2 separate regions of the Homo sapiens genome follow, and region 2 is linked to region 1. The links come from fine-mapping of genetic effects on gene expression. Tissue or cell type: whole blood. Region 1 holds a variant in brackets; the other region holds the start of a gene. All regions are shown on one strand. Distances are between the middles of the regions. Region 1 has its middle 38 kb from the start of TJP2. Region 2 holds the start of TJP2 (tight junction protein 2).

The links.
Region 2: it holds the start of TJP2, and the variant in region 1 is fine-mapped to the expression of TJP2 in whole blood (TOPMed, PIP above 0.99).

The regions. Positions count from the first base shown.
Region 1 is chr9:69,130,599-69,141,248 of GRCh38, reverse strand. It overlaps a transcript of TJP2 not described here. Among named protein-coding and RNA genes, the nearest start is that of TJP2, 38 kb to the left of the region's middle. RefSeq lists an enhancer at 10,060-10,589. The variant AG/G (reference allele first, on the strand shown) is at 6,023.
Region 2 is chr9:69,168,466-69,179,115 of GRCh38, reverse strand. It overlaps TJP2 (tight junction protein 2), which reads right to left and starts at 4,839. Exons shown (of 23, transcript NM_004817.4): 1 at 4,684-4,839. The coding sequence starts at 4,743. It overlaps LOC124902175 (a long non-coding RNA gene), which reads left to right and starts at 7,519. Exons shown (of 2, transcript XR_007061566.1): 1 at 7,519-8,460. RefSeq lists an enhancer at 3,741-3,930 and a silencer at 4,821-5,250.

The DNA.
Region 1 (10,650 bases):
AATCACTTAATTGACTGCCCTTCCCAAACAACTTGCATATATATAATAATTCATGGATTCTCTGAGTACTCTCAGTCCTAAGAAATAAAAAACTTTCAGGCCGGGTGCAGTGGCTCACGCCTGTAATCCCAGCACTTTGGGAGGCTGAGGCGGGTGGATCACCTGAGGTCAGGAGTTCAAGACCAGCCTGGCCAACACATAGTGAAACCCCATCTCTACTAAAAAAATACAAAAATTAGCTGGGTATGGTGGTGCACGCCTGTAGTCCCAGCTACCTGGGAAGCTAAGGCAGGAGAATCACTTGAACTTGGGAGGCAGAGGTGGCAGTGAGCCAAGATCGCACCACTGCACTCCAGCCTGGGCGACAGCGAGACTCCGTCTCCCAAAAAAACAAAGAGAAATAAAAAACTTTGAACTCCTTATGTGAGGGAACACCGCTCCCTATTACTGTTGGTAGAAATTGATCCTACGCTGTTTCTACTATGAGCCTAGAATTGTAGGATTCTAGCAGTTCCCTTGCCTGGGAGCACATGAGCGATGAGGTGTTGCACAGAATTCAGAATCTTGGCAGGAGCTGGTTTAAGACAAGTGTGGCCTGGCCATTCATTGGGTGAGGGGAATATCAGTCACCTCTGCTCTGGAATTTTAGGAAAGGAACACCCCTCACATCAGAACTGGGAACTTGGTAGTGACTATACCGGGTATGAGGTGTTGAGATACAGCAGTTGGCTGACAGCAGCTGGAGAGAGTAGTTCACATGATCCCACGCTGCACCTGCTGACACACCCCTCCCACTCTGTAGCATGAATTGGGGGGCCACACTGCCTGAGATTGAAGTCCAGCTCCATCACTGACTAGCTGTGTGGCTTTGGAAGAGTCAATGTCTCTGCCTCAGTTATCTGTAAAGCAGGGCTAATAATAGTGCCTACCTCATAGAGTTGTTTTTAAAATTACACCAGTTATTACATGGAAAGCACTGAGCACATGTAACATCCAGCACATAATATACACCGTGTAAGTGTATTTTAATTTCTTTGCTGACTAGTTGTGGCTTCATTTCTTCCAAAAAGCTTTCTTTCGTTGAATCCCCAGACTGGGTTTGGTGTTCCTATTCTGCCCTCTCACATACTTTGGGCTTCATCAATTAAAACTGGAACACGATGACTTAAAATGTGTTTAAGCACCTGAGGAGGAAAGAAGGAGGCCAGGGCAGCTCTGAGGGTGTTTGAGTTCCATACTGATCTAAGCCTGCCCCCAACGCTCACGGCAGCGGTCGCCTACTTGCTCTAGACGAAGGTTTGGCTCCAGACAGAAGCCTGCCCAGTGACCACAGTGTTGTGACCTTCCTGCTGGCCAGGAAGGCCCCAGGGGACTCTGTGGCAGTATAGGGCCCTATGGAGGAACTTTGTCCTGCTACAGAGCTATTGCTCTTGGTAAACCTAGAAGACACGGCCGAGTTCGAGACAAGGACCTGGCTATGGGAGACCTGGTCTCGCTCTCACTGCTCATCAATGGGAGATGGTGGCTGTGCCATGAGCTGCTGCATTAATAGCTCTCTTGGTTTTAGGTAGAATTTCTTATTCTGCCTGAATTAGTTTCCTGGGGCTGCCACAACAAAATACCACAGACTGGGTGGCTTAAACAACAGAAATTCATTATCTCATGCCTGCGAGTCCAAGACCAAGGTGCTGGGAAGGTAGGTCCTGCGAGGGCTGTGAGGGAAGGAGCTGCTCCAGGCCACTCTCTCTGGCTTGGGAAGGCCCATCTTTTCTCTATGTCTTCACATTACCTTCCCTCTGTATGTGTCTGTGTCCAAATTTCCTCCTCTTATAAGAACAGATTGGATTAGGGGCCACCTTAATGATCTCATTTTAGCTTGATTACCTCTATAAACACCGCATCTCCAAATAAAGGCACATTCTGAGGAACTGGGGGTTAGGACTTGAACATAGAAATTTTGGAGGTGGGAAATATAATTCAACCCATAACACTGACTAAAGTAAAACATTTTGTTTGGTTGGTTGGTTTTTTTGAGATGAAGTCTCACTCTATCACCCAGGCTGGAGTGCAGTGGCTCAATCTCAGCTCACTGCAACCTCCGCCTCCAGGGTTCAAGCGATTCTCCCACCTCAGCCTCCCCAGCAGCTGGGATTACAGGTGTGAGCCACCACACTCAGCTAATTTTTTTGTATTTTTAGTAGAGACAGGAGTTTTACCATGTTGGCCAGACTGGTCTCGAACTCCTGACCTCAGGTGATCTGCCTGCCTTGGCCTCCCAAAATGCTGGGATTATAGGCCCGAGCCACTGCACCCAGCCCCCTTTATTTTTTTTGAGATGGAATCTCACTGTGTCACCCAGGCTGGAGTGCAGTGGTGCGATCTCAGCTCACTACAACATCCGCCTCCCAGGTTCAAGCAATTCTCCTGCCTCAGTCTCCCAAGTAGCTGGGATTACAGGCATGCTCCACCATGCCTGGCTAATTTTGTATTTTGAGTAGAGATGGGGTTTCTCCATGTTGGTCAGGCTGATCTCAAACTCCCGACCTCAGGTGATCCTCCCGCCTTGGCCTCCCAAAGTGCTGGGACTAGAGGTGTAAGCCACCATGCCCAGCCTCCCGGCTGCCTGGCTAATTTTTGTATTTTTAGTAGAGACAGGATTTTGCCGTGTTGGTTAGGCTGGTCTCGAACTCCTGACCTCAAGTGATCCGCCCACCTCAGCCTCCCAAAGTGCTGGGATTACAAGCATAAGCCATGGTCCCTGGCCCTTTTTTTTTTTTTTGTAAAGTTCTCATCCAGTTTTGTCTTGTGATGGAAAAAGGTGAAAGCCCAGAAGTTCCTGATGGCCTGGATCTGTCCAGCCCTGTGACTGAGCCCATTATATACTTTATAGCAAACCAGCTGGGAAAAGAAAATCCTCCACCCTCAAGATAAGCCAATGTCTGATACGTGAGAACAATCTAGGCTCTGGCAGCAGAAGCCAAATCCATCCAAACTCAAGAGGAAGAAGCTAAAACCCACTTATAACTATTATGAGCAAACAAAGACATGGGACCTCCAGACAGCATGGAGGGTCTGGGTATGGAACGGGCGGAACGTTGGTTCAAGATGAGAGAACTGGTAATGCCTCTTGGAGAAGAGAACAGGGCTGTTAAGTTGGAATCAGGATGGAGATCCTGTTGATGACAGGCAGAACGATGAGGCCAGAAAGTGATTGATGTTCCAAAGTCAAGCATGCCTCTGACCAACCAAGTGGGAGAGAAAAATCAATTCTATACTAACCCTGTGGAAGAACAGAACAGAAAAGCAGACCCAAAGGGGCATCTTAAGATGTCTGGATTGAGCTGCCCAAAGTCTTCTGGAGAGAGGAAATGAAATGACTGCACATTGTCACGAGAAAGAAATGGAGCCTGCTGAGATATTACCTGTCAAAGTAGAGGAAGAGGAGGAAAGATCTGAGGCAAATGACAAGATGAGCTGTGACCAGGAGATCTGGGGACCCACAGAAAGAGATTCAAAGACCTTGAAGAAAAGCTGGAAAGTTTCTTCTTCTCAAGGCCAGATTCTGTCCCTTGAAAAAAAAAGCTCAGCTGAGTACAGTGGCTCATGCTTGTATTCCCAGCACTTTGGGAGGCCGAAGCGGGCAGATCACTTGAGCCCAGGAGTTCGAGACCAGCCTGGGCAACATGACAAAACTCCATCTCAACAAAAAAATACAAAAATTGGCCGGGCCTGGTGGTGCGCATCTGTGGTTCCAGCTACTCAGGAGGCTGAGGCGAGAGGATCGTTTGAGCCTGGGAGGCAGACATTGCAGTGAGCTGTGATCACACCACTGCACACGTTGCAGTGAGCTGTGATCACACCACTGCACACTCCATCCAGCCTGGGCAACAAAGCAAAACCCTGTCTCAAAAAAAAAAAAGAAAAGAAAAGAAAAGAAAAGAAAAGAAAAGAAAGAAAGAAAGAAAGAAAGAAAGAAAAAGAAAGAAAGAAAGAAAGAAAGAGAGAGAGAAAGAAAGAAAGAAGGAAAGAAAACAAAGAAGCTCATGATCATTGGTTGAAGAGTGTGGGCAGCTGGACAAAACCTCAGCTCATGACGAGAGGCTGCCGACCTGAGAAAGAGAATAACCAACAGAACAATGAAACTCGAGCCACATAATTCAGGGATCAGGCAGAGCTAAGGAACCTGGCCTGGATCGCACAGCTCCTACGCAGCAGGGCTGACTCCTTCCACTCTGCTCAGTGCCTTCTGGAAGTGGATCCTCTAGCATCTGATGACACACACAAAGCGTTGCCCTGAGCAGTGGTGCTGCTTCCTCGGAGACAGGAGGGTCCCACACCCCCAACCTCTTCCCTCTCCTCCTGCTCTTTCCCAAATCTGTTTCCAGTGAATCCAAATGTGGAGTTCATGACAAGAGGATATCCTCTTCCTTCTCCTTCTCCAGGAAGCCTGAGTGAACACACCCTACCACCATCACCAGGCTTCTCACCAAAGGGCCGCTGTCCTCCTCATCCTCTCCTTCTCCCTCATGGGCTGAGTTTTTCCCAGACACCCCCAACCAGGAAATGGATGTAGTTTCCTCCTGCATTCACTGAGCTTGCACATGACCCTAGTAGTCAAGATCCAGAAACACCGCAAAGTCTTTAAGACACTTTGTTCTAAATTTTCCTGTAAAATATTTCCAAATCATCTACATTTATTTTTAGCTAAAAAAAAACTTTTTTACATAAATGGTTCTATATTTTCTCAAACTGTATTATGATTTGATTAGTATTATAAATTTTAGGATACCTTTTACCATCATTGAAGTTATTGTCATTATAGTATACACTCTACTAAAATGAACTGTACATTTTAACTTGATGACTCAGCTCATTATTTATTCATTTTTTTCAGTAGAGATGAAGTCTCACTATGTCACCCAGACTGGTCTCAAACTTCTGGTCTCAAGTGATCCTCCCGCTTTGGCCTCCCAAAGTGCTGGGATTATAGACATGAGCCACTGCACCCATTATTCTTAAAAAACATATTTTTTTGTCAGCAGTTCAGCCACGAGACACATTTGAAATTGCAAAACACTTTCCTCTGCTATTGGTTCTATGGACCACAGTTACAAGACAAAGATAAAAGTTTCTTGGTGGTATCAAATTTGAATTGACATCAAGAAATAATATCTCTTTGAGCATTCTGAGATAGCCTAAAAGGTAGGTATGATGTCATAGTCATCCTTCTATCTCTAATATCTCTCCTCACTCAGGAACTAGCACTTGACTGACGTCCAATAATATTAGAGTTTACTTCTTAATTAAGAGTCAGGCAAGTATAATGATTAAGACCCTACACTTGGCTGGGCACGGTGACTCACGCCTGTAATCTCAGCACTTCGGGAGGCTGAGGCAAATGGATCACATGAGGCCAGGAGTTTGAGCCCAGCCTGGCCAACATGGTGAAACACCATCTCTACTAAAAATACAAAAATTAGCTGGGCGTGATGGCGCGAGCCTATAGTCCCAGCTACTTGGGAGGCTGAGGCAGGAGAATTGCTTGAACCCGGGAGGTGGAGGTTGCAGTGAGCCGAGATCACGCCACTGCACTCCAGCCTGGCAAAAGAGTAAAACTCCGTCTCAAAAGAAAAAAAAAAAATCAGCTAGGTGTGGTGGTGCATGCCTGTAATCCCAGCCACTCAGGGGGCTGAGGCAGGAGAATCACCTGAATCCGGGAGGCAGAGGTTGCAGTGAGCTGAGATCGTGTCACTGTACTCCAGCCTGGGTGACAGAGCGAGACTCTGCCTCAAAAAACAAACAACAACAACAACAAAATCCTAGACCCTAGAAGCAGACTGCCTGGTCAGAATCCCAGCTTCACACTTAATTAGCAAATCACTTAAATTCTTCAGGGCCTGGGTTTCCTCATCTGTAAACCGGGGATAATAAATAATGGCCATACCTAGTGAGATTGTTTGAGAATGAATTTTAATGACTATATGCAAAACATTTAGGTCCTGTCCCATTCAAAGAGCTATTA[AG/G]AGTGCCAGCCATGATTATTTACTCAGCAAATCGTTATTGGCCTGGGTTGCTAAGGACTGAGTGTTTGTATCTCCCCAAAATTCATATGTTGAAGCCCTAACCTCCAGTGTGATGCTATTTGGAGATAGGACTTTTGGGAGGTAATCAGGTTTAGATGAGGTCATGAGGGTGGGACTCTCATGATAGGATTAGTGTCCCTACAACAAGAGAGAGAATGAGAGAAACAGATCTCTCTCTCTCTCTCTCTCCTCTTCTCTCTTCTCTCTCTCTCTCTCTCCTCTTCTCTCTTCTCCCTCTCTCTCCATACACAATGCATCCAGGAAAGGCCATGTGAGCATACAGCAAGATGGTGGCTGTCTGCAAGCCAGGAAAAGGGTTCTCACCACGAACCTGACCATCCTGGCACCTGGTATCAAACCTCATGTCTCCAGAGCGCTGAGAAACAAATGTCTGTTACTTAACCCACCCAGTCATTGGTACTTCATTATAGCAGCCCGAGCTGACTAAGACACAGGTCGTAGGCCCAGCTCAGACAGGTCTTTCAGCTCGCTGGGTGGTACTTCCTCTATTGACCCTGGGTTCCTCGAACCCAGTTTGTCTTGCTTGAGTGGAGCACTTCAGCCTTCCAAGTGGACACTTAGATCTTGCTGCAATCCTGCCCTCTGGCAGCTGAGGTGCCAGTGACCACTGCTTCACTATCCGCCTCCTAGCTCTCCAGGTGTGCACCCCACAGGACCAGCCCTTCAGGCCTCCAACACCACTCACACTCCAGACAACAGCCCCACATTGCCCAGGGTATCAACATTCCAACTTCCTATTTCTCCCTCTTCCCAGGAGAGACTCCCTGCACCTGCTGTGGGACTTGTGTCACTGCTTAGTCTCTAATTGTTATATTTATGTTTACCTGTGCACCATCTGCCTCCTCCAGACTGTAAGCTCTGCTCTGAGGGCAGAGACCTATTTTGCTGACGTTGTATCCATTTCACGTTGGGTGTTCCAGTCCAACTCCACACTCATTCATTCACTCCCTCTACATCCCCTGAGCTGGTCCCTATCAAACAGTCTGATTGGCACTGGAGATTCAAATAATACCAAGCCATCCTTGCCTTCAAAAATCACCCAGTCTAATGCTGCAACAAGCAACTGCGACCCAGCATGCTGTAATACGGATGTGAGTGACCATGGAACCAGGGTAGGACATAGGAGAGCATGAGCAATCCTGTCCGAGGGACTTGGCTTGGGAAAGAGAAAGAGAGAAAAGAGAAAGTACTTGAGTTGGGTCTTAATAATAGGAGTACATATTCCTTAGGCTGACAAAAGAAATCTGGGGCATCCAGGTAAAGAGAAAAGTGTGTTCAAGAGCCAGAAAAATGAGGCTGGGCATGGTGGCTCACATCTGTAATCCCAGCACGTTGGGAGGCTGAGGCAGGCGGGTCACTTGAGGTCAGGAATTCGAGGCCAGCCTGGACAACATGGTGAAACACTGTCTGTACTAAAAATATAAAACTTAGCTGGGCATGATGGTGCACGCTGTAGTCCCAGCTACTCAGGAGGCTGAGGCAGGAGAATCGCTTGAACTCGGGAGGCAGAGGCTGCAGTGAGCCGAGATCGCGCCACTGTACTCCAGCCTGGGTGACAGAGCGAGACCCTGTCTCAAAAAAAAAAAAAAAAAAAAAAAGCCAGAAAAATGAAACAGGAAAGCATTCTTAGACCAGCAAGCGGAGCAGTGTGGCAGGAATGCAGGCTTGTGTGCACCCATGAGCCCAGGGCTGAAGGGGATGCCTCTGAAGTGACTTGCAGAGTGAAGATGCAGCAGACGCCAGTCTTTCCGGAGAATACACACCTATCCTTGGCTAGGCGTCGCTAAGCCATTATTTAGTGAACATTTCTACTGTGCCAGCCCCTGAAATAAGCACTCTACATACACGGCCTTGTTTAGTTCTCACAACAGCCTTAAAAGAAAGGATGGGCACAGTGGCTCATGCCTGTAATCCCAGCACTTTGGGAGGCCGAGGCAGGAGGGTTGCTTGAGCTCAAGCGTTCGAGACCAGGCTGGGCAATATGGTAAAACCCTGTCTCTACAAAAAATACAAAAATTAGCCAGGTGTGATGGCACATGCCTGTAGTCCCAGCTGTTTGGGAGGCTGAGGTAGGAGGATCACTTGAATCCAGGAGGCAGAAGTTGCAGTGAGTCGAGATTGCACCACTGCACTCCAGCCTGAGCAACACAGTGAGACCCTATCTTAAAAAAAAGGCAATAAATTCTCCCTGTTTTTAGATGAAGAAATGAAGAAATCTAGGCACCAGGTGACTAAGTAACTTGCCCAAGGCACACAGGTAATAAGTAGTAGAGGTGTGATTCCTACCCAGGTTGGTCTGATTATAAAATTCATGCCTTCTGAACTCCCACTAAGCCTACCAGGTAGGTACCCTAGGGCCTTTGGTATATCCCCATAGCAATGAATTTAACTGCCCCTTTCCTCATTCATTCCCTCTAGAAGTGGGTCTCATGAGAGCAGAGAATTTACCCTGCTCACCGTGGTATCCTTAGCACCTTGCCACAGTGCCTCAAAGGGCATAGGCATTGATAAGCGCCTGTTAAGAATGAATAAATGGATGAATGAATGCACAGGACTTTGAACTCTTTTCCACCCTTCTCTATCCGTGTAGTGCAGGAATCCCAGTTATCATTCTGAACCCAGGATCTAGGTGCAAAACCCCAGTTCACTTCCTTCCACCTTCTCCTGCAGCACCAGGCCCCGAGGCTGCATTAACAGATCCCTTCTCCAAGTTCAGGGGTCCCCACCACCATCCTCACCTGCCACTCTCATCCCCATCCAAAAGGTAACATAGCAAGCCTGACTGTTATCCTTTGAAAGACCCACTTACAAGGTGGCTCTCAGCTGATGCCTGGGAATTTGGATTCCCACCACTGCCAGGACTGGTAAGAGTCTCACACTGTCCTTAAACTGTACAACCATGTGGTTTATGCTGAACAGCTGCTTTCCTTGTGTGAGTCTGAAATTTGGGTAGCTGGTAGGCAGAGGACACCAGTGTAACAATCCCCCAGTAAAAACCCGGGGCAGTGAGTCCCTTATAAGCTTCCCTGGTTGATAACATTTCACATGTGTGGTCACAACTAGTTGCCAGGGAATTAAGCACATCATGTGTAACTCTACTGGGAGAGGAGCCTTGGAAGCTTGTGCCTGCTTGCCTTGGACTTCGCTCCAGTACTTCTCCCCTTGGCTTATTTTGCTTTGCATCTTTGAGCCATAATAAATCATAGCCATGAGTACAACTCTGTGCTGAGTACTGTGAGTCCTCCTAGTGAATCATTGAAACTGGGGGTGGTCTTGGGGATTCCAGGACACTCCCTCTCCACAGATGCAGGGTTGTGAAATATTTCCTTTCCAGTCCTGTCCATTAACCAGAGGAATCACACACCCAGGGCCTACAGGGGCCAGCAGGAATGTTCATCTGTGCAAAGGGCTGAGTGGGATCAAAGGCAAATTGGAAAGTCTAAACTAAGGAGCTGCTACTCAGTTCCTGACCATACAGCAAGTCACCAGGCAGTTGGTTTACAAGCACTGATATTAAATCACTTTGCTCTCTACTAACAACAGATGCCCCAAATGATAACAGAGAACACCTTGGGGCAGGCTTTGGCCTCTTTCCGAAACCCAAGAGAAATATTTTACATCCTCAGACGCAATGAGGATTCCTTTAAAATGAAATATACAATCAAATTAGGGGATGTTTCTCTCGACTTTGTGACGTGAGTGGGAAGAGTAGAACACAGCTCACTCTCAGAGGACCCAACACCAGTGGGCCACTGCCCTTCTTGGATTTCTTTCCTGTAGCAAACCTCCTGACCTTCACAACGTGGACTGTCAAAAACACTTCCATATGTCAGCACCCACTCTCAGAATCGGCTTATATCAAGTTATGCTAAGATGACTGCATGCCTAAAGCTATTAAGCTGAGCAGGCAAATACACACAAGGACACAAACTCCAGTTTTAGAGATGACAGTCACTCCTCGCACAAAGAAATCTTGCTTCTGGTTTGCAAAACTCATCCTGGTTTTACGTTAATTATCAGTGACAGGCAGAAAGAGGGAGAGAACTTAGTCATGATCCCTGGGACTACGGCCAGAAAGACTAAAAGAATTCCCTTTCTTACAGGAAAGTCCACATGTGACTCTGTGGCCACAAGCAGCACATCCCACTGCCCGGGGATGCTGCCCTTCCTGAAAGAATGGTGGAAAGGCCAGGCCTGCACAGCTACAACACCTACCATCCGGGTGACCACTCAGTCCCTCCCCTGACACCAATACCCATACATGTCCTCACTCTCCTGAACCTTTACATAGGAGTTTGTGGGTCTTCACTCACCCAGGTCTCCTCATAACCCTCTGTCCATTTCTTCCTTATCTCTCAGCTCTGTTCTTCCTCGCAGCCACCCCTCCCCACAGTATTCCTCAATTCGTCCTCAGCACTTGTCTATGCGCCCTGCTTTGGCTGGTACCCACTTCCACAGCTCCACCAAGCCCCTGCACACACAGGATGCCCAGACCAGCCTCAAGCCCGGCCCCTTCCGTCATGCAAGTTCCAGACCTGCACTTCCA
Region 2 (10,650 bases), 38 kb before region 1:
CATTCGCCTGCCATGAGCATGCATCTCTCTAGGTCAAAGCAGGGATACTTGTTTTCTACCTCAAGGCTTCCTGTTCCTACGAAAATCCTTGTTAAAGCCTATTTTACAGACCAATACAAGCTTCATATTAAAAAAAAAATAAGAAAAAAAAACTCATCCAGTTGGCATTCTTCTGAAAGACTTTGAGAAATTAAATGCATTTACAGGTGAGGCTGTTTGGCTGTCCACATTCTTCGGCAATGAATCATGAGCAAGAGTCACTTGATAATACAGTGATGTCCTTCATCAGTGTCAAAATACTTCCTCCCCTATCACTCTATCATATCAAAAATATCATACCAACAGACCTTTAAAAACTGCAGAATGGCTTGTGGAAGCAGAGAAAGGAATGAGAATTGGGCCAGACGTTAAAACAAACAGCTAGCTCTACAAATACACTGTCTGCAACCACATCTAAGAGATCTGAGTGGATAAGAGCAGGATGCACACGCTTAAGACAGAAAGTCCATCAAATTCAACTTTCCTGGCTATTCTGGGCCATTCTGTGTTTGACTTTCTTGAAGGCGTGGTCAAGGTATACCAGGCTCTCTATAAGTAAGCACCACACTCATATTTTAAGCAGTATTATGCACACCTCAGATGTCAAGGGCTAGCTTTACCATTTTTGCCTTAGCCTCATATTACTCATTCCCAGAGTTGATAATTTTTCTTAAAGCAAACTCACTGCTTTACTTAATATTTATTTTTGCCTCATTCTAAGCAATCTAGCCATGAAATAAATGGATGTGGTAGCTGGTTTTCTGTTTTTATTCCTAACATATAATATTCATGCATCATAATTGAAAAATAGAATATGTATCTCTCTGCACCACCTGTAAGTCTGTCTGTATACCAGACTTTGGAAAGCACTGTTTTGGGATAGCATAAAAGGTAGAGAAAATGCTTTATTAAATGATTAGGTATTTTGGGGGTATGATAGTCCTTACTCTGTCTCCTCTGAGAGCTCACAGGTTATCTAGGATGATGAAGCTTTGGTTGTTTAATGGCCAGCTGGATGATAGAGACACCAATCCCTTTAAAAAACAGAATGGAGCCGTCACTGTTATGGGTAGCCATTGCCCCAGCTTGTGCAGGTCTTCTGGGGCTCTAGCTGTCAGTCACCCAGTTCTAAGAAGTGCTTTTCCTAATCAAATGGAAAAAGTGGAAGCAGACACTCTCCAACTCGGAACTCTGCCTCTCACACTACAATGTATGCAGCATACTAGCTCAACTGCTTTCCTAGGTACCATCCAAAATTAAAACTAGTGGCCGGGCACGGTGGCTCACTTCTGTAATCCCAGCTACTTTGAAGGCTGAAGCAAGAGAACCGCTTGAACCCGGGAGGCAGAGGTTGCAGTGAGCCAAGACCGCACCACCACACTTCAGCCTGGGCAACAGAGCAAGACTCCATCTCCAAAAAAAAAACCAAAAAAACAAAAATAAAATTAAAACTAGCTACTGCAATACTGCATATTGGATTTCCATGCCTGAATTTTTTTTTCCATTGCTATCACACAGCCTTTTCAAAAAGTTTAATAGTAATACCACCTTAGACCCTCCCAAATTCACTTTCTATATGGGCATCTACTAAAAAGGCTGATTGCAAAAATTCCTATGAGGGAGAAACAGGCCCTAAATAGCTTTTTAAACCTTAACAAAGTTCACATAACCATTGATGTGTTTAACCCACTAAATGGGTGTTAAATCTAACCTCTGAGTCTGTGTTTCTGACCCTAACCCTTGGATTTAGGATCAAGACAAAAACTCAGTAAAACACCAGAGAAAACTGTTCTGCTTCCCTCCACTCCCATCTGGGGCAATCTCACCCTCAGACACTACCATATACCAAATCACCTTCTCTGGAAAATCAAGGCTGGTTGGTCCAACAACTGTTGGGCCCCTGATTACTGCTTAGAGTCAAATCAATGAGGCATGTTATTGGGAATCAGCTCTCAACCTAGATAAATTCATCTGTAGCCACAACTGCTTAATGGGATTCGTTCTAGAGATGAGGCAAGGAATTCCCTGGTGGCTCATATTGTTGGTAGAATATGTTGAAAGTTTCAGCAGTGATTGCGAACCCTTCTACCGCTTCACCCCGCCCCCACCACACCCAAACTTCATGCCTCTCCCCAACCAAGTCTGCATGACTTTTTAAATTACTATTTATATTACTACACATATTATTGTACACAGGACTAAAGTGGCCCCGCCTAGTTTCAATAACTTGTGTCTCGTAAAAAGATAACCTTCTTAAGGAGAGAAAACCTTGCTAAACTCAAAATCTCCCTTGCCTTCAGCAGTATGCAGAAAGTTCTCACACTTGTCCTGAAGAGAAATGGTTGGCTGTGAACTTTTGTCAGTGTACAAAGAACTAGATCAAAAGTTAAATGTAGGCAGAAGTCATTGCAAATGCAATTCCCCCGGGGGTGATGTAAAAATTCATTGGTCTTAAGCCTATGAATGCCTCAAAAATAGTTATGGGGTGGGATGTTTACTGGGAAACTGGTTCGCTTCTTTTGTAGGGAAAGTCAAGTCATTTAATACATGAGGGATTTCTGACTTCCCCCCACCCAAAGCTTCGTTATGGCCTTCAAGGCCTTTTAACAGAGTGTGAACAACAACTCTTTCAGTTTTTTCCTGGACACCTACCTGGCACCTCCTACTTGTATCTTTAGATCTCACCTCCCTTATCAACCCAGGACCCAACACTTAAGAGTTTTCAGCACCCGTTTTGTTCCTATTACTAGCTACCACCATTTACGTAGCATCCACCACATGCCTTGTACTCTCTGTCATTTCATTCAGACCTCACTCAGCCCGGTGAGGTGGGCGCATTACTGGCCCCATTTTCTATAGTGGCTTGCTCGGGTGAGGTAACTGTTCAAATGCCCTTTATTCCCAGCAAGAATCCCCTGAAGGGAATGCATATAGGACCAATCCCACTCTTTGCTAAATTTCTGTATTGCAGAGTGTGCATCGGCATCATACATTCCCTCCCTCAGTCTCAGGAATCCCGACACAGATTGCAGAGTAAAGTCTAACAGTTTCAGGTCCACTAGACCCCTAAATGCAGAAATTGAATCTTGTTCATCTTTGTATCCCCCACAGTGACTGGCAGGAGTAGGGGCTCATTCAGTATTATAATATCTGGATGGTACTGAAAAAGTTACAGCAGCATTTCAGAGGGGAAAGTTCCCCTTCATCAATCTGCATAAGTAGCTCTGAAAAGAAATAAAGTGGCCCCACTGCAGAAGTAGTTCTGAAAAAAACACAAGAAACACCTCAAAAGCCACCGGTGCTTTAGTAAAGCACCTCCGCTTCTGCCATCTCCCCACAATGAGGAAGCTCCAGTACCCTGTCCACATTTCTAAATGGCACTCATCGGATTCTTAATGAGTTGCAGGCTTTCCCAACGGGACTGTGTGACAGAGCCACGCTCTTGCTCATCTGCGTAATCCCCACACTGAAGTGGAGTTGTTCATGAAAACTTACTAAATAATCAAATTTCATCCTCTCAAGCAGGATATGCAGTGGTACTTTGCTACAAATACATTTACCACTACGAATTTCTCACTTCAAGCGATCTCCTGCCCAGGTGTGTGCTCTCAGAAAATTACATCTCTTTCTGAATTACGCTGGCAAAGGTGGACCTGTTTTCCCAAAAGGACCGTCAGCACACCCAGCACAGACCACCTGGGGAGCTGAAGAAAACGACCTCCCTCCCTCCTCCCCGCTGGGATTCCCCGGGCTGAGAGCGTGAGTGAGAAGCGCAAGGCAGTTTCTATCATGGGATGACTCTCCGCTGGGAACTTCAGGGAAACCACAACCATCATTACTCAGGCCAGACAGCTGCCAGAAAAGCAGCCTAGCCTAAGAACTGAAGCTGAAATAGAGGTGGGAGGCTGTATTCCATTACTAAGCGCGGGAGCACTCACTCCCAAGTTTGTCCACATTTCAAGAATGTTAAAACCCTGTGGTAGAAATCCCTGATTATTTATAACTTAAACTACCGTGTAAAAGCAGAAACTTGACAAATGAAGACATAAAAAGAACTGGTGACAGGTAGGCTAGTACTAGAATACAAAGCATTCATCACACTCCTCTTTTGTGGGTCCTTCCAAACCTCCATCCCCATTCCCTACTGGAAAAAAAAAAAAAAAAAAACAACTTTTACTTCTATTACAGACGCAGCTGATTGAAAGGGAAAAGGGATTCTGCTCTGTGATGAGTTTTCAGTTTCTCTCACGTACACAAGCCTGTAACTTTGCATCAATACCGAGTGTGGTTTGAAATAGAGAAGGAAAACACAAAGACATGCAAGCGACACAACAGACACGAGATGCCTCCAAGCCAGCAGAAATCCAGGACACCGGGTTCAAGACAGTGTCCCCTACTCGCGCCTTAATCTCCAGCCCAAGTGACTTCAGAGTAAAGGTTCCAGGAGCCCCGGAGGCCACGAGTCATCAGCCCGGACGGTGAAACCTACCCCTCCCCTGCGTCCCACGTCCGGATGGGAGAATCCCAGCTTCCTACGGCGCATCGGGGAACAACTTCAGAGCAGCACGCGAGCAGAGCCCCCAGCGCTCCCACGCTCACGCTCACGACCCTCCTCCCAACCGCGCGGCACAAGGAGGCACTTACGCGGAGCCAACCTGACAGCTCCCGCCGGGGTGGAAACCCGCGGTCTCCTCGCACCGGCATTTCGGACACAGGTCCCGCGTAGGCGCGCAGCTCCGGACCCCGCTTCTGCTTCTGCTCCTGCTCCTACTCCTCCTGGGCACCACCGGACAGTGCTCTGACCCGCAGCCCAACCGCCGGGGTGCCGACCCGCGGGGACCCACCCCTTTGTCCCTCCTCCCGCGGCGGCGGCGGCGTCAGCCCGCCCCCGACCCGAGCGTGGCGCCTCCGCGCTGGCCGCCCGGCCCGGGAAACTGTCAAATTGGCCGCTACCACCCACGCGCCTGCCGGGGAAGGGCTCGCCGGCGCCGCGCCTTCGAGGCTCCTGCGGCGAACCGCGTCACGCGCGACTCCTGGCCGGGGGCGGGAGGCGGCGGCGGCGGCAGGAGAAGCCCAAGGCCCGAGCGGCCCGCAGCCCCCACGCCTGCACCCCTCCACCCCCGCCAGCCCGATGGTTCGCTCCGCGGCGTGCACTGGAGCAAGCAGGTCCCGCTCCGAGCGCGCGCGCTCTGGGAAGTGCTGCAAGTTTGGAGACCTGGAGTGAGCTCCGGGCGCTGCTGGCCCGACTGTCCGCGGTGTTTCCCCGGTGAGGTCGCGGGGGCATCCTGTAGGAAGACTTTTTGGCGAGGTTCGCAGGGCCTCACACAGGCAGCTTCAGTTCTCCTACGAAGAGTCGAACTGGGAAAACCTCAAAGTTTTAGGTCCTGTCTAGAGGCCTGCCCGGCTAACCAACACATACACGGCCTTGTACCCCACATTTCTCAGCCCAACAACTGCCTACCCGAATTCCGAGGGTTATAAGATGTTCGTATTAAATATTAAAACAGGACTTTTCAGGACAATATATTCCAGGTTATCTCTTTGGCACATTTCCAACAACTCCAATAAAGAGATTGAAACTCCTCTCCCATCATCAGCTTATAAAAGGTTGCCAGTAGGTCACAAGTGCTTATCTGACAGGATTCATCTAATGCAATTCAGTGTGCTTATTCCTTTCGAAGTCCTCCATGTGCAAAGAATTGTGCAGTGACGTTAAGTGTCTTTATTTTAAGAGCATATAAATTAATTTGGAGAATCCAAACAGGTACCGATTAAAAATATAACCTTGGGTTTGAAATCTTAAAAAACCATCTTGTAAGAGAATAGTTTTGCCTGCCCTGCTCTTCCCTTAATTGGAAAGCAAAACTCGTCCTAGGCTCACAAGTAGAAGGTAAAAGGTGTGGTCTGTCCCAGAGGAGATGCAGATGCTGGGCTCTCTCCCTGAAAAGTTGCTTCACTTCCTGCCTGATCAAAACAAGTCTAGAAGTTTCGTGGAAAAACAAGTCCAGTAGATGCCTCTCCAGAAGTGTTATGCTTCTGGACTCCTTTGGAGTAACTAAGTCCACGCCTCTGGATAAAAAGCACTGTGAGTAACGTTTCCCACTTTGCCTCGAGTCTCCGGACTTAGACATTTTGGTTGTATTCCTGATGTAAGGCATTGCTCTCCTGATCTAAGCACCTATTTATAAAATGTTTCCCAAATCTGGCCAGGCACGGTGGCTCATGCCTGTAATCCCAGCACTTTGGGAAGGCAAGGCAGGAGAATCACTTGAGCCCACGAGTTTGAGACCAGTCTGGGCAACATAGTGAGACCCCATCTCTATTTTTTAAAAATTGTTTTAATCAAAAAAAAGGAAAAAAAAATAAAATATTTCCCAAATTAGGTGGTGCTGACTAATAAAAATGATAGCACTTGAAAGGTGGCCACACCTTAATGATGTGGGCTTAGAGCCACTAACATTTAAAAAATAATCCAGAATGTGGCAGTTACATCTACTGACTGATTTCCTTTTTTCTCTCTAGAGCGGCACTGTTCAATAAGATGACCACTTGCCACCAGTAAGTGTTTACATTTACATGTAAATTAACTAAAATTAGAGGAAATGACAAATTCAGTTCTTCAGTCACACTTGTCTCATTTCAAGGGCTCAGAAGCCACATGTGGCTAATAGCTACCCTATTGGACAGTGCAAATATAGAATATTTCCATCAATGCAGAAAGTTCTGTTGGACTGCACTACTCGAAATGATGAAATATTTATAGACAAACTCCATTCTTCTGGCACAACACCTGACAGATGATAAGCATTCAGTAAATGGTTGTTAGAAACACGGTTCAGTTGATATATTAGCTTTTTTGCTGGTGGCAGTGTAAATCAATACAACTCTTTGGAGAAACAATTTATTAGTCATCTTCTTCACGTGTGGGTTTGCACATTTTGACCCCACTCCTAGAATGTGTTTATCCAAAGAACTTCTACTCCGCAGGGCGCGGTGGCTCATGCCTGTAATCCCAGCACTTTGGGAGGTCGAGGCGGACAGATCGCGAGGTCAAGAAATCAAGACCATCCTGGCCAACATGGTGAGACCCCGTCTCTACTAAAAATAACAAAAATTAGCTGGGCGTGGTGGCGCACGCCTGTAGTCCCAGCTGTTCAGGAGGCTGAGGCAGGAGAATCGCTTGAACCCAAGAGGCGGAGGTTACAGTGAGACGAGATTGCACCACTGCACTCCAGCCTGGTGACAGAGCGAGATTCCGTCTCAAAAAAAAAAAAAAAAAAAAAAAAATTCTTCTACTCAACAGGTACTTACTGAACACCTCTGTCAACCCCTTGATAAAATACTCAGGATCCTGCCTTAGGAAACTCAGTCTATTGCAGTAGACAATCAACAAGTAATGATAAACTGTGTAAGCACTGAGATTCCTGGCAGGCTCAGAGTGGTCTAGCAGGAGAGACTTAGGGAAGGCTTTCCAGAGATGGGGTTGCTTATACATTCTAAAGGAGAGGTCGGAATGAGTTTTTAAGACACAAAGAAGGAAAAAAGCCTTCCAGGTAAGGGGAATAAATAACACAGAGAGAAGTAAGGAAGGAAGAGACAGCAGGCTTACTCTTGAGGTGCCAGAAGGTGAAGTTGCCCAGGCAAGTATAAAGATGGATTTGACAGTTGGTGGGGGACAGGGGTTGGTGGGGGAGGAGAATGTTAGTAAGAATGACAAGACCGGCCAAAAATGCATTTTTGTGGGAATGCAGGTGAGAGATGACGTGGCTATGAAGTTAGGCAGTGTTAGACAAAAGGGAGCCAGATTCTAGAGAAACTAAGGAAGTAGATCAGCAGGCTGGATGACTGCCTGACTAGATATGGGGAGACGCGAGCGGGAAGTGAGCCTACGCTGACTCTCAGGTTTCTGGCTTACTTAAAGGAGATGACGGTGGCTTTTATCAAAACAGAACACAGGAGTGGGAGCAGATCTTGGGAGGAGCTTGAAGAAAGATGATGAGTTTAGTTACAGACTGATTTTCAAGTGCTATGGGTCATCCAGGTGAAGATGTTCAGTAATTTAACAAATATGTATCAAGTGTCTCCTATGTGCTAGGCACTGATGAGTATTTGAGGAGAGAGATTTGGGAGTGATTTGGGTATCATCAATGTATCATAAAAGTTGAAGTCTTGGGAGGGGACAATCCCACATTCAGAGACGTGATGTAGATTAAGCCAAGAGAGGACTAAGGACAGGACTCATCTCTGGGAATGCCAATATTTAGGGGGCAGACTTGAGTTGCCAGAACAGAGACCAAAGAGGAGCTGCCAGAAAGGAAAGAAAACGCTTCTGGAGGAGAGTGTCCAAAAAGCCAAGGAAAGAACAAACTTCAGGAAAGAGGGAGAGGCCAACAACATGGAATTTCGAGGAGGTCAATTAAGGTAAGAACTGATGATGTTCATTAAGTGGAGGACCACTGCTTATCTTGGCCAGAGCTTTTCAATGGAAAGATACGACTGGAGGTTAGATTACAGTGGATGACTAGGTATGAGGCAGCACTTCACTATATGCCTGTATCTAATAATGAATGATGGAAACCACCAATGTCCAATGATGGTGGGCTGGGCTATTAAATTACAGTAAATCAACATAATTGGCATAGCAGACCATCATTTAAAATTGTAATAAGGAAGTCTATACAACAAGGAGAATGATAATGCTATAATTATCAACAAAAAAACACAAATTACATCTAATGTATGATGATGACAGTGATAAAATTATAAAAAAAATAAAAACTGGAAAGTATGCAAAAAAATGACTTCATGAAAAGACAGGCTTGTGCATATATTTTTCTTTTTAAATTTAGTTATTGTTTGTGCAATGGACAATTTTTTTCAACTTTTCAGTGTATATTACAATATATAAGGTCTCTGAAATAGGTTGGTCAGCTAGGTGCAGGGGCTCATGCTTGTAATCCCAGCACTTTGGGAGGCTAGACAGGAGGATTGCTTGAGCCTAGGGATTTGAGTCCAGCCTGGACAACATAGTGAGATTCTGTCTCTACAAAAACTAATAATAAAATAAAATTACCTGGGCATGGTAGCATGTGCCTGTAGTCCCAGCTACTCGAGGACTGAGGGGAGAGGATTGCTTGAGCCCAGGAATTTGAGGCTGCAGTAAGCTATGACTGCACCACTATACTGCAGCCTAGGTGACAGAGAGAGACACTGTCTCAAAAAATAAGAAATAAGTTGGTCAGAAGACCTTAATGAGATAAACTAAATGCCTTTTAGTCATATTTTCTCAAGAATGTGGAGATCTTAAGAAACATATCTGTGTGTGTGTATATATATATATGTATATATCTGCAATATGGTTATAAAGTATCATCAACTGGGAGCAAAGAAAACTAACACTGAAAAGTTTACAAGTTCAGCCGGGTACGGTGGCTCACGCCTGTAATCCCAAAACTTTGGGAGGCCGAGGCGGATGGATCAACTGAGATCAGGAGTTCGAGACCACCCTGACTAACATGGTGAAACCCCGTCTCTACTAAAAATACAAAAAAATTAGCTGGCATGGTAGCAGGCGCCTGTAGTCCCAGCTACTTGGGAGACTGAGGCAGGAGAATCACTTGAACTTGGGAGGTGGGGGTTTCAGTAAGCCGAGATCACGCCACTGCACTCCAGCCTGGGCGACAAGAGTGAAACTCCATCCCCCCCCCAAAAAAAAAAAAAAAGAGAAAAGTTTACAGGTTCACCAAACAATTTAGTTAACGTGTACACTGTAAAGTAGACTGGAATCGTAACTCTCCTTTAACAAACCTTTCTTGAATGCCTACCATATACCCTGGGGTAGCTATACAGAAGATAATGACAATTTATAAAAGGGAGCCTGCTCACAGTGTGTTGAAGACAACGATATGTAAACACATTGTGACACGTTAGGAGAATTGCTCAACTACAGAGATGACTAAAGTGCTGAGGCAGCAGCTAAAACTCCGCCAGAAGGACCTGATGTTTTTTCAGTAAAGGCCTTGTGTCCTCCCCCGTCCCCGCCCCCACTTCCAGGTAGCCTCATCTCCTCTCCTGGCTCCACCCATCTTCCTCAGTCCAAACACCAGTTAACAATAACCACCCGGTTCACCTGCAGGCTTCCTCCCACAATAATCACCCCACTCAATGGCCCCTGTGATTACCTCCAGGAGAGCGGCATCTAACGTTCTGCTTCCCCCTTATGCTTTCACTTTTAGTTATTATATATTACTTTCTTTTTTCTTTTTTTTTTTTTTTTGAGACAGTTTCGCGCTTGTTGCTCAGGCTGGATTGCAATGTGCAATGGCGCCGTCTTAGCTCACTGCAACCTCTGCCTCCCAGGTTCAAGCGATTCTCCTGCCTCAGCCTCCTGAGTAGCTGGGACTACAGGCGCCCACCACCACACCTGGCTAATTTTTGTATTTTTAGTAGAGATGGGGTTTCACCGTGTTGGCCAGGATGGTCTCGATCTCCTGACCTCAGGTGATCCACCTGCCTCAGCCTCCCAAAGCGCTGGGATTACAGGCATGAGCCACCGCGTCCTGCCCTCATGATCACTTTCAAAGTTTGTTAAAGTCCTCCTCTTTTTTCTTT